Linked DNA regions of Homo sapiens. The protein of the gene in region 3 purifies or fractionates together with the protein of the main gene of each other region. This does not show direct contact. Each region holds a gene or a part of one and is shown on either strand. Other genes may lie near its edges.

Region 1 (3,650 bases), on a different chromosome or scaffold from region 3:
GCAGACGTCGTAGCTCGCCAAGTTCTGCGGGTGGGAGCTGCGTCAACCTATCTGGCCCAGCCCTTCCTTTGGGGGGCCTGGGGGAGGATATGGCCCCGGATAGGCACTGACAGCAGGGATGGGACCTGGGGCCCAGGGTGTTGGCAGGACGCACCTTGGCCTCGATGCCGATCTTCATGATGGTGCCCGAGATGGTGAGCACATCGCTGGTGACGAGCAGGATGTACCAGCCATTGACAAATTCCAGCCGCTCCCACAGGCTGATGACCCGTCCCCGCTGCCGCCACATGAACCCCACAAACTCCTGCAGAAGGCAGGCGGGGTGAGGGCCTGACCAGGCACAGGACCCTCAAAGCCCTGGCTTTTATCGCCCCAGGGCCAGGCGGGGAGGACACCAGCACACATGACGCAGAAGCCTCACGTTCTGCAGCAGGAAGCCTCGAAGGAGTGAGCGGGCGCAGAGGAGGAAGGACAGGGAGCAGGTGAGGATGACCACCACGTCAAACAGGAGCCGGAAGCTGTTGTCTCCTGCGGGGAGGGCAGAGCGGGTAGGGCCAAGGATGGCATGGAGCCTTGGGAGGCTAGCATTGGTGCCAGGCCAGGCTGGAGACCTAGGGGGCTGCACGGCTGGTTTTGGTTGGTCAGTGGGCTCAGGGCTTGCTTGGGGTGAGTCAAGAACCCCGGTCAGTGCTGGTCTGGGGCTTGGGGGATCTCAGCACAGGACGGGGTCCCTGGTCTGTGCTGATCTGAGGCTCAGCGGATTCCTGGGGAGGTCACGGCCCCCAGGCAGCGCTGATCTGGGGCTTGGGGAATCCCAGGACAGGCCAGGGCCCCTGGTCAGTGCTGGTCTGGGGCTCAGGGGCTCACCGTGCTGGAAGACACTGGGGTGCTTACACTCCTGGATGTGGGCCTGGGTCTCCAGGCTGATGGGGATCCGCCCACTGTGTGCTTTGTTGTCAAACGTGATCTGTGGGGGCCAGTTGGGGGCAGAGTAAACCTTGGCAGCCCCAAGCCCCAAGGTCCACATGACAGGTGGCCTGACAGACCCCGGGCTCCCTCCCTCATCACCCGCACGCTTGCCCTTGGCCAGTGCTCCCAAGACACTCCCTGACCAGGTCCCTGCCCTGGAACTCAGGAGCCCTGTGGGTTCCCGGGGGGCCTCACCAGGACGCTGAAGGTATAGCAGTCCGGGATCTCATTATTGATGAGGCTCTGGAGGTTAATGGTCTTCAGCCGGAAGTGGATGGTGACATTGACCAGCCTAGGCAGGAGGCTCGGGTGAGGGTCAGGGGCGTCTTCGGGTCCCTTCCGGCCCCAAGTGCCAGCGTCCCCTGCCACGTGCTGACTCTGCAGCTGGCAGGGGAAGTGCTCACCCAGCAGGCACCAGCGCGGGCGGGGGGGCCCTGTCCCCACCTTAGGGAAGTAGTTGCTGGGGTGAGAGTGCCTAGTGTGCTGCCTCCCCCACCCTGGGCCCCCCTCGAGTGAGCAGGCAGTACTTGTGGAATTTGAGCGTGAGGTTCTTGTAACTGGAGCTGCTTTCCAAGAGGGTGAGATCGTCGCTGGGGGGCGGAGGGGGCCGCTCGGGGGGATCCACCTGGATGCAGTCTAAGGACAGGGAGTCAGGGAAGGGCCTCAGGGGGCCGGGGAGGCCAGGCTGGTCTCCCCAGAGTCCCCAGTGGCCTTCTTCCCTGTGCTTCCCCAGGGTTGGGTCATTCCTACAGGCCTGGCACTCTCTGGGCCTGCGGATGTTTTACTGAATGAGCCATATTAAAATATAACATCTGGTGCTTTCTACGTGGCAAGAGTCACACTCACACTAAGCATACTTGTTTTTTTTTTTTTTTTTTTTTTTTGAGACAGGGTCTCACTCTGTCACCCAGGGTGGAGTGCAGCAGCGTGGTCATAGCTTACTGCAGCCTCAACCTCCCGGACTCAAGCGATCCTCCTGCCTCAGCCTCCTGAGTAGCTGGGACCACAGGGGCACGCCACCACGCCCAGCTAATTTGTTTGTGCGTAGAGACAAGGTCTTCCTACGTGGCCCAGGCTGGTCTCAAACTTCTGGCCTCAAGCAATCCTTCCTCCTCAGCCTCCCAAAGTGCTGGTATTATAGGCGTGAGCCACCGTGCCCAGCCACAGCTGTTGATTTTAATCCCAGCAGCTCAGGCTCCCAACAGTGAAGCCTCGTCCTGCCCACTCACCAGTAACCACCATCGGATCAATGTCAAATGTGTCGTTGGCCGGGTCCACGTGGCCTCGGTGGTAGTACCGCTGGCAGAGAGCAAGCCCTGAGCCATTGGTCCAAGGGTCACCCCCACCACGGACATACGCATACCGGCCCAGTGACACGTCAGGCAACGCCAGGTACTGTGGGCAGAGAAGGGGAGGGCCTGTGAGTCCGGCCCGCTCTCTGCAGCCCACCCACCTGCACCTGCCCGCCCACCAGCACCTGCCCGCCCAACTGCACCTGCCCGCCCACCTGCACCTGCCTGCCCACCAGCACCTGCCCGCCCACCAGCACCTGGTCCACAGCATGGAAGATGGCCTGGTACAGCTGCTCCCGCGTGTAGGCTGCGAAGGTGTCATCCGCTCCGTCCGAGTAGCCCAGCAGGAAGAGGTGTCGGAAGGCGATGGTGTTCTCTTCCCGGAATGTCACAGCCAGCTGATTACTGAGCCCAAACAGGATGAGCTGGGGAGAGGGTAGTAGAGGTTGGCATGGCTAGGATGGGGGTTGGGGTGTATCTCCCTCAGGGCACAGGCCCTGGAAGAGGACAGGGAGGGCCCTGCAGATGTCCACTGGGGTGGGGCAGGGCCCTGCTAACTTGGGCCACAAACACGGATTTCACTTGTGCATTTCTTTGCTTTGATTAATTTCACCCCACCTCCTGGCATAAGCTCCATGCCACGCCCACCACTGTGTCCTCCCCCGTACAACACAGGGTGGGGACTCATCTATCTCACTGCAGGGACTAACGTTCATTAAATGTTTACTGGATGTCCGATTCTGTGTTAAACCCAAACTTTCAGGGTAAGTACCATGACTGGGTCCCTTTTCTTTTCTTTTTTGAGACAGAGTCTCACTCTGTTGCCCAAGTTGGAGTGCCATGGTATGATCTCAGCTCACTACAACCTCCACCCCCTGGGTTCAAGCAATTCTCCTGTCTCAGCCTCCTGAGTAGCTGAGTTACAGGTACCTGCCACCAAACCCAGCTAATTTTTGTATTTTTAGTAGAGACGGGGTTTTGCAATGTTGGCCAGGCTGGTCTCAAACTCCTGGCCTCAAATGATCCACCCAACTCAGCCTCCCAAAGTGCTGGCATTACAGGCATGAGCCACCATGCCTGGACAATTGGGTCCCTTTTCAGAGGGAAAATTAGAGGCATGGTGACATGCTAAAGTCAGCCCAAAACATGAAGTAAGCACTTAGGGCAGTGGCTGGGTCTGATTCATCTTGGGGTTCCCAGAGCCCAGCACAGGGTCTGGCATGGGGGAGGGAGAACTATCTGTGCAGCCATTGGGTCAACATGGTGTCAGACTGCCTGGGTTCAAATCCCAGCTCCCAATGTTCTATTGCTGTGTGACTTTGGGCAAGTCTCCTAACCTCTCTGAGCCTCAGAGTCGGCTTCTTTTTTTTTTTGAGACAGTCTTGCTCT
Region 2 (3,683 bases), on a different chromosome or scaffold from region 3:
GTGGAATAGGAAGTATCGTGGTTATTTCTTATATACACCTAATAAAGCAATATTAAAGCCTGTATACAGATCAATCAGTGATCAATCATCCCTAGAGCACTGGTCACCACTTTGTCCTGCACCTGTCTGAGTAACCTCGGGCACAGTACAAGCCCCAAGTTGGTGGCCAGGTGCAGGGAACAGGCACAGTCCTCACTCCTGACAGACACCTCCATCTTCTCCAGCAGCATCCCACATCTTTTAACGCTAAATTATCAATCCCCAAATTTTAAAAGGTTGAGGCAGGTGCAGTGGCTCACGTCTGTAATCCTAGCACTTAGGGAGGCTGAGGTGGGCAGATTATCTGAGGTCAGGAGTTCGAAATCAGCCTGGCCAACATGGCTAAACCCCATCTCTACTAAAAATGCAAAAATCAGCCAGGCATGGTGATGTGTGATAGCAATCCCAGCTACTCAGGAGGCTGAGGCAGGAGAATCGCTTGAACCCGGGAGGTGGAGGTTGCAGTGAGCCCAGATCGCACCACTGCACTCCAGCCTGGGGGAAGGAGTGAGACTGTCTCCAAAAAAAAATTAAATAAAAAGGGGGAATCAATTTTCCTCCACAGAAGAAATAATTTTATTCCATTTGAGAAAAGTAAAGGATACATTCTTTGTCTGACAAAAGTGATTTTGTCATGGAACTCCAAGGCCTGCCTGGTGAAGTGACAGTGACAGATGTTAGAGGAACCTGTGGCCCTCAGTGACACAGAGAGCACAGACATTTGGCTGGGAAAGCACTTGCATGATCGAAACATTTCCTATTGCAGAGATTCAGAAGTTCTTTTTATCCTGAAGATCATTCTGGTTTCTAATTTAAGATTGAAGATGATTTAATTTGCTAATGGAACCCAGGCCAGCTGTTTTTTCACACAACTGAAAGGAGAGAAATCGGAAATCACTCTTACATGGTGAGACCTTTGATACTTTTCTCCAGGCCTCATGAGTCAAAGGCCATCACTGTCCCTCCACCGAGCATCTGGGCAGTGTCTGCCTCCTGTCCAGAACTCTTGGAGGCCGGGCCAGCAGCCATCTCAGCCCCTCCCACCCCTCCATGCCACAGGGCAGCACCAACTCCCAAGTAGTAGCAGGCTCTGTCCCGCAGTCCCCAGCCCATCCACAGCACCACTGCTGCCTTGGCAGCGAGAAGGGCTGGGAAAACTGCAAGCCCCTTCCTCCCTCAGGTGTTCTGATCGCCTTTTACAACAAGGGTCGCCTCTAGCCCCTCCATCAAGTCTTTGGTCCTGGAACATTGTGAGTTACATTGCATATAGTGTTATTCTAAGGGCATCACCCAGAGAAAAAGGACGAAGCGGCCTTCTCACTCTGGAGCTCCGAAGAACTGAGCCAGGGAAGCAGCAGGGGGAGCGCCCTGTGTTAGGTGTGCACAGGGGCTGCGGCTCTCAGCACAGGCCTGACGACCGCCCAGCTTCAGACGCCAACCATAGTGAGGCCTCAGTGACAGGCACTCATCCTCCCCTCCAAACACTGGCCAGCAAGAGCTCCTTCCAAGGAGGACAAGTGGGAGAATCCAGAGAGCCACGCTGTGGGACGGCTCCTGCGGAACTGGGCGCAGCCTGTGTGTGCTTGGCCTGGGAGATGCCTGTGTGTCACACTAAGCCACTCTAAAAGGACAGGAGTAGGACTGCCCTTTATTCAACAGTGCCGCAGTTTGGGTCCAGGGCTTTTTCAACTCTAGAAATGGCATTGCCTCAAAAAGGCTAACTGAGGGGGCCAATATGAAGTAGGCTTGTTACAACTGTAACTGTCACTCTCTAAAACAGGGTGGCATGCCAAGCCTATTCCACAGCACCTTTGCCAGGCAGACAGAGAACACTCCTTCTCAGAGCCAATCCCCGCTCCACAGGAAGTGAGGATACAGCAAGAGCCAGGCAAGCCGCGCAGATGCCACTGGCTCTCACGCTGCAGGTCCCTCGACAGAGGCCATAAATCTTTCCCTCCGAGCACGTCCAACTTGGGGGTCCTCACAGTGCTGCTATGAACTGGCCAGTCCACTAAATGTCACAGGGAAATGGCTCTCTTGCTGCACCTCTCTGGATAGGGGCCGAGGTCGCTGCTGTTTTAGATCCTGCCAGCTTAGACTGGGTAAGGCCATGCCCAGGGCCAGTGCAATTGGGAATACTGCAGTGACTTCTGAAAAGTGTCCATCCTTCCCCGGAAGCAAAATGCAGCACCCCTAGGACATCGCCAGTGACAGCTGAGGCACATCAACAGCCAATTGCTAAAGCTGGGCCTAGTCTTTAAAAACAAAGCTTAGCTCCCCGCTTGGGTGGTCTGACTGAACTGGCTGTCTGCAGAAGTGACGGCTGGCACTGCAACTGCTAGTCTGGGGGCTTGCCCTGGAACTGTACCCATTGCCATCGAGCCATTGGGGATGACAGTTGTGTTCAAGCTATTAGGGGTCTCACCACTAGCTTGTATTTTAAAGTAGACCAAATAAAAGACAGGCAAGACAATACCAATCAGCAGCATGATGAAAACAGCATTCCACCACTGAATGCCACAATCTGCACCATCCATAGGCGTCTTCGGAGGTGCCGGGAGCAGTGGCTGATGGGAGGTGTCCATGCAGTAACTTTCATGTAGAAAGATTTCTGACTGCACTGCACGCTCAATATCCTGGTCAATCCCCTTAAAGAAGCCCATCAGTTGGCCGGCCTGGGCACCGGTGCCCGCGCCTGCTCTGTCTGCCTCTGGCAGTTCCACGGTCACTGTGGTCTCGGAAGACGGGCTCAGAAGGGGTTTCAGTTCTTTGTGGGTCTCCATCAGGATCCCATGGTTTCTCACTGGAATCTTAACAGATTTCAAAGCATATAAGTCTTGTTCTCTGATGAAGTTGTTGACTTTCTTGATATCTGCAACCTAGGAAGGCACGAAGATAAACATCATAAAATATGCGGAGCTCCTTAAAAATAACTTTCCAAAAAGTGGCTCTTAATCTTTCTGGGTGATGATTCAAGCCCACTTCACTGACGAATCTGATGAAGACTGGAAAACTGCAGCTGTACACAAAGTTAGTTTAGGCTGAAATTTTGTTTTTTTGGCTTTCACTCAACCTCAATATATAGTTTAGTAATCAGATATTCCTAAAGATTTACAGGTTTGAACAATTTAAGATCAGTTTTGAAAAACAGATCTTTCTTAAACTGTTTAAAGTGTGACTGCAACAAATCGCTTTGGGCGAAACCACCATGGCACTGAAAGGAATGTTGCAGCCTTTTCCACCTTTCACTTTTGAGGCAATAGTGCCCCCATCTGCCTGCCTTCCCCCTCATGCCAGAACTCAGTGGCTGCCAGATGTTAGCATTCACCAAACACACAGCCTCAGCCAGCTCTGCAGACACACTCAAAATCCAGTTTACCTGTAATAAAGTTGACAGATATGCCCTCGGCATTTTCTTTCCCAGAAACACTGTGGGGCATGTAAACTTATTAAATAAAAGTGACTTACAGTTACTGTACTTAACTGTCAGGAAAAAGGAATAATGCTGTGAGTTTTATCAAGTAACAAAGTTCATGACAAACTCCTCTCATAATCAAACACGAAGATTTAAGAAGCAGGGAGAATGTAAGTCAAAGGGTAACCCCTCCCTCAAACTAATGTTTGAAAACTTTCCAAAAGCATCA
Region 3 (3,650 bases):
ATAATAATCACATCATAGAGAATGGGGCATCCACCCCCTCAAGCATTTACCCTTTGTGTTACAAACTATCCAGCTGTACTCTTTTCATACACCTGTTTGCTATTTGTATGTCTTCTTTTGAGAAATGTCTATCCAAATATTTTGCCCGTTTTTTTGATCAGATTATTAGATTTTTCCCTATAGAGTTGTTTGAGCTCCTTATATATTCTGCTTATTAATCCCTTGTCAGATGGGTAGTTTGCTAGTGTTTTCTCCCATTCTGTGGGTTGTCTCTTCACTTTGTTGATTGGGAAACCTTTATTTCTTATGTGGGCCTCTGGCTCTGACATGCCTCAAGTCTGGAGGCCTGGACTGCTCTTCTCAGCAGCAATACATGGCTGCCAAAGCAAAAGGGCAACTCTAATGAGACCGGGGCCCACTAAAGCTTTTGCAACCGTAGAAGCAGGGTGATTTGGCGAAGTATTGGGTAACAGTGCCCTTGAGAAAATGTGTATCTCTGGTTGATTGATTGCAATGGGCCCTCATTATGACAGTTGAGCCCGAAGCAGCTAAAACAAATCAGGATGGAAAGAAATGGTTTCAGGCTCTGCCAGCTGGACCCAGCAACCTTCCTGTGTGAGGAGACCAGAGCCCTTGTTGGGCCTTGAATCTGTCAACTGTGTTCATACTCACAGATGGGTTTTCCCAGGAGAACTCAGCATCTCACCGCAAAGAAGAGTGCTAACATTTGTTTCCTTTAGGTAGCTCTTGTTTCAGGATTATAACAACATTTAGGCTTACAGAACAATTGAGCAAAATATGCAGAGTTCTCATATATCCCCTTCACTCCCCTCAGTTTCCCCTATTGTCAATATCTTGCATTACTGTTGTATTTGTTGTAATTGATGAACCAATATCAATACATTATTATTAACTAACATCCATAGTTTACTTTAGAGTGTACTCTGTGTCATATATTTCTGTGGATTTTGACAAATATATAATATCATGTGTCCACCATTACAGGATGATACAGAGTAGTTTCACTGCCCTAAAAATCCCCTGTGCTCTGCCTATTTATCCCTCTCTTCCACCCACCAAACCCTGACAACCACTGATCTTTTTACTGTCTCCATAGTTTAGCCTTTTCCAGAATGTTGCATATTATGTAGTTGGAATCATTCAGTATGTAGCCTTTTCAGACTGGCTTCTTTCACTCAGCAATACACATTTTGATTTTTCTCCACGTCTTTTCATGACTTGATAGCACTTTTGTTTTTATTGCTGAAGAATATCCATTGTCTGGATATGCCATGGTTCAGTTTATCCAGTCACCTACTAAAGAAAATGTTGGTTGCTTCCAGGTTTTGGCAATTATGAATGAAGCAGACGTCTTCTAAGACGTTTTCTTTACATAACTACCAAACCATGATGATGTAAAATTAACAGTAACTCAATATATCATCCAATATCCAGTTGATATTCATTCAAATATCAACTCAGAATTCCATCAAGGTTTGTGCATTGCATTCTTTTGCCTTTTTAGTCTCTTGTCTAGAACAGTTTCCTGCCTTGTTGTTGTTTTTTTAATGAGAGATTTTTAAACATAATTCCAAATTTTATTTTAGACACAGGAGATACATGTGCAGGTTTGTTACTTGCAAAGATTTCCTTTGAAGAGTCCAGACCAGTAGTCTCACATTCTGGGTCTGATTACTTCCTCATGATTCAGTTTGGCATAAGTCGTTTTTGGCAGCATTCCAACATAGGTAACGCTATGGAGTCTGCTTTTCTGACTTTGTTGATGATAAGCTCCATTGCTCGGATGAGGTGGTGATGGCCAGAACCCTCCATTGTAAAGTGACATTTTTCTCTTTGTTCATAATCTGTAGGAAAGTACTTTGAGACCATGTGAATTTTCTGTTTTCCAGCAACCATTCGCCCAGTGATTTTGGTATCCATTGACAATTATTGCCTAAGCTAACTATTACATTGGGGGTTGCAAAGTATTAATTATCAAATTCTGTCCTGCTTCCTACGTTTATCAAGTATTCCTCCCCATTTAAGAAAAACAATCCCTGTAGGGTCATGATATATTCTTTTAATGTTTTTGTAATTCATATTGTCATTATTCTGTTTGCTTAGCATGCTCTTTCACTATTTTCCTCTCTCCTAAAGATGTTGCCATGAGATGGAGGGGAAGGGGTCTTATTTGCTGTCTCTCTCAGTGTGATACATAGGGAAACCAACACAAGAAACGGATACCTTTTCCAAGACTGTTTAAGGTCCAGTGTTGTCAGAGCCAAAAAAGTCAGAATTCTGGCCTGACAGTTTGAATAATCAGTGTCTATTTCACCAGGTGTAACTGATTTGAATACTGCTTAGAATACTTACATCCCTTCTTCATATTCACTAAGAGATAAATTTGACTAATTTTGCCTTAATTAAATAAATGACAGTATATTACAGTTAGGTTTTCTGATTTCTTTTGTATATTATCATATTACACAGAGTAGAAACCCATTATTTTAATAGCTATAAAGTATTTTAATGCAAGACTACCAGAGTTTGCTTCTGCATACCCCTTTTTTGGGGGGTACAGTGGAGATACAGTGAGTAGTGTTTTGCAAACTTATGTGGGAATGGAGCTTCTTTTTTTCCAAAGAAGTTGTTCACTTCTCCTTCTCTCAGACCTTTCATTTTACCCAAGGGACATGATGTGTTCCTGCAGGTGGTCATTTAGTAAAATAATGAAACAAGGCTTGCTATGAATGGTTGTGCAAATGTGCACTGTATAATCCAGAGGGCACAATTTCTACTGCAGTGTTTGTGAGCAGTGCTCCTTGGCACTGTGTGATATACAGTCTTGGTGGTCCCATACAATGGACTCTGGGAAGTGGCATTCTTTTTGTAAGTTGAAAGCAATGGAATTTTGGAAGAGAAGGCAATTTACGTATATAGTCAGAGATAAATGTCAACTTTATCCTCCCAGTAAGAATTACAAATAGAATCACTTTTTATCTTGTACTTAAAATTTCTTATACTTAAAATACCTTACACTTGGCATTCCTGTGGTGTGGTCAAGTTTTGACAATGCCTTTCATAAACCCTTTTAAAATTGATTATAGTCTTGAAATTTAAGAGGATATAGTAGTCATCATAGGTTTACTGCCGTAATAAACAAGCTTGCAATCTCTGTGGCCTAATGCAATAAAGGTTTATTTTTCTCACATGTTACATCCACTGTGGATTGCAGGTGGGCTCTGGACCTAGGTGTTTGAATCTGGTGGCTCCTAAGTCAATCCTCAGAGCCCTTCACTGGCTCCTGTGCCTCTGGCTGCCAGATGAGAAGAGAGAGTGGGGGGAAATGCACAGGAGACCTGGGAGCAGCATCTGTCACTTCCACCCACAGGCATTGGCCAGTGCTCCCTCCATTGGCTCTGCCTAACCACAAGGGAGGCTGGGAAATGTTGTCTGTCTCTGTGTCCACATGGAAAAGGCACTGGGGTTTAGGGAGAGGGATGAGTCGTCGTTTCAAGGCTGACCTCTTTTCTCTATTTTGTTTCTTCTCCAGGAGACTTCTTGGCATCATCACAAAAAAGGATGTTCTGAGACATATGGCCCAGATGGCAAACCAGGACCCCGAATCCATCATGTTTAATTAGCAACAA

Evidence for each region.
Region 1: the proteins of CLCN4 (region 3) and MCOLN1 fractionate together in Homo sapiens (co-fractionation; one large-scale study listed by BioGRID). This does not show direct contact.
Region 2: the proteins of CLCN4 (region 3) and LYSMD4 fractionate together in Homo sapiens (co-fractionation; one large-scale study listed by BioGRID). This does not show direct contact.

The regions. Positions count from the first base shown.
Region 1 is NC_000019.10:7,525,475-7,529,124, reverse strand, and holds part of MCOLN1 (mucolipin-1), read right to left. Parts: intron 2,687-3,650; coding exon 2,519-2,686; intron 2,365-2,518; coding exon 2,199-2,364; intron 1,606-2,198; coding exon 1,497-1,605; intron 1,262-1,496; coding exon 1,165-1,261; intron 968-1,164; coding exon 868-967; intron 529-867; coding exon 422-528; intron 305-421; coding exon 155-304; intron 25-154; coding exon 1-24. UniProt on the Homo sapiens protein: Nonselective cation channel probably playing a role in the regulation of membrane trafficking events and of metal homeostasis. Acts as a Ca(2+)-permeable cation channel with inwardly rectifying activity.
Region 2 is NC_000015.10:99,726,814-99,730,496, forward strand, and holds the end of LYSMD4 (lysM and putative peptidoglycan-binding domain-containing protein 4), read right to left. Parts: intron 2,919-3,683; coding exon 2,310-2,918; 3' UTR 592-2,309; downstream 1-591.
Region 3 is NC_000023.11:10,229,941-10,233,590, forward strand, and holds part of CLCN4 (H(+)/Cl(-) exchange transporter 4), read left to right. Parts: intron 1-3,553; coding exon 3,554-3,644; 3' UTR 3,645-3,650. UniProt on the Homo sapiens protein: Strongly outwardly rectifying, electrogenic H(+)/Cl(-)exchanger which mediates the exchange of chloride ions against protons.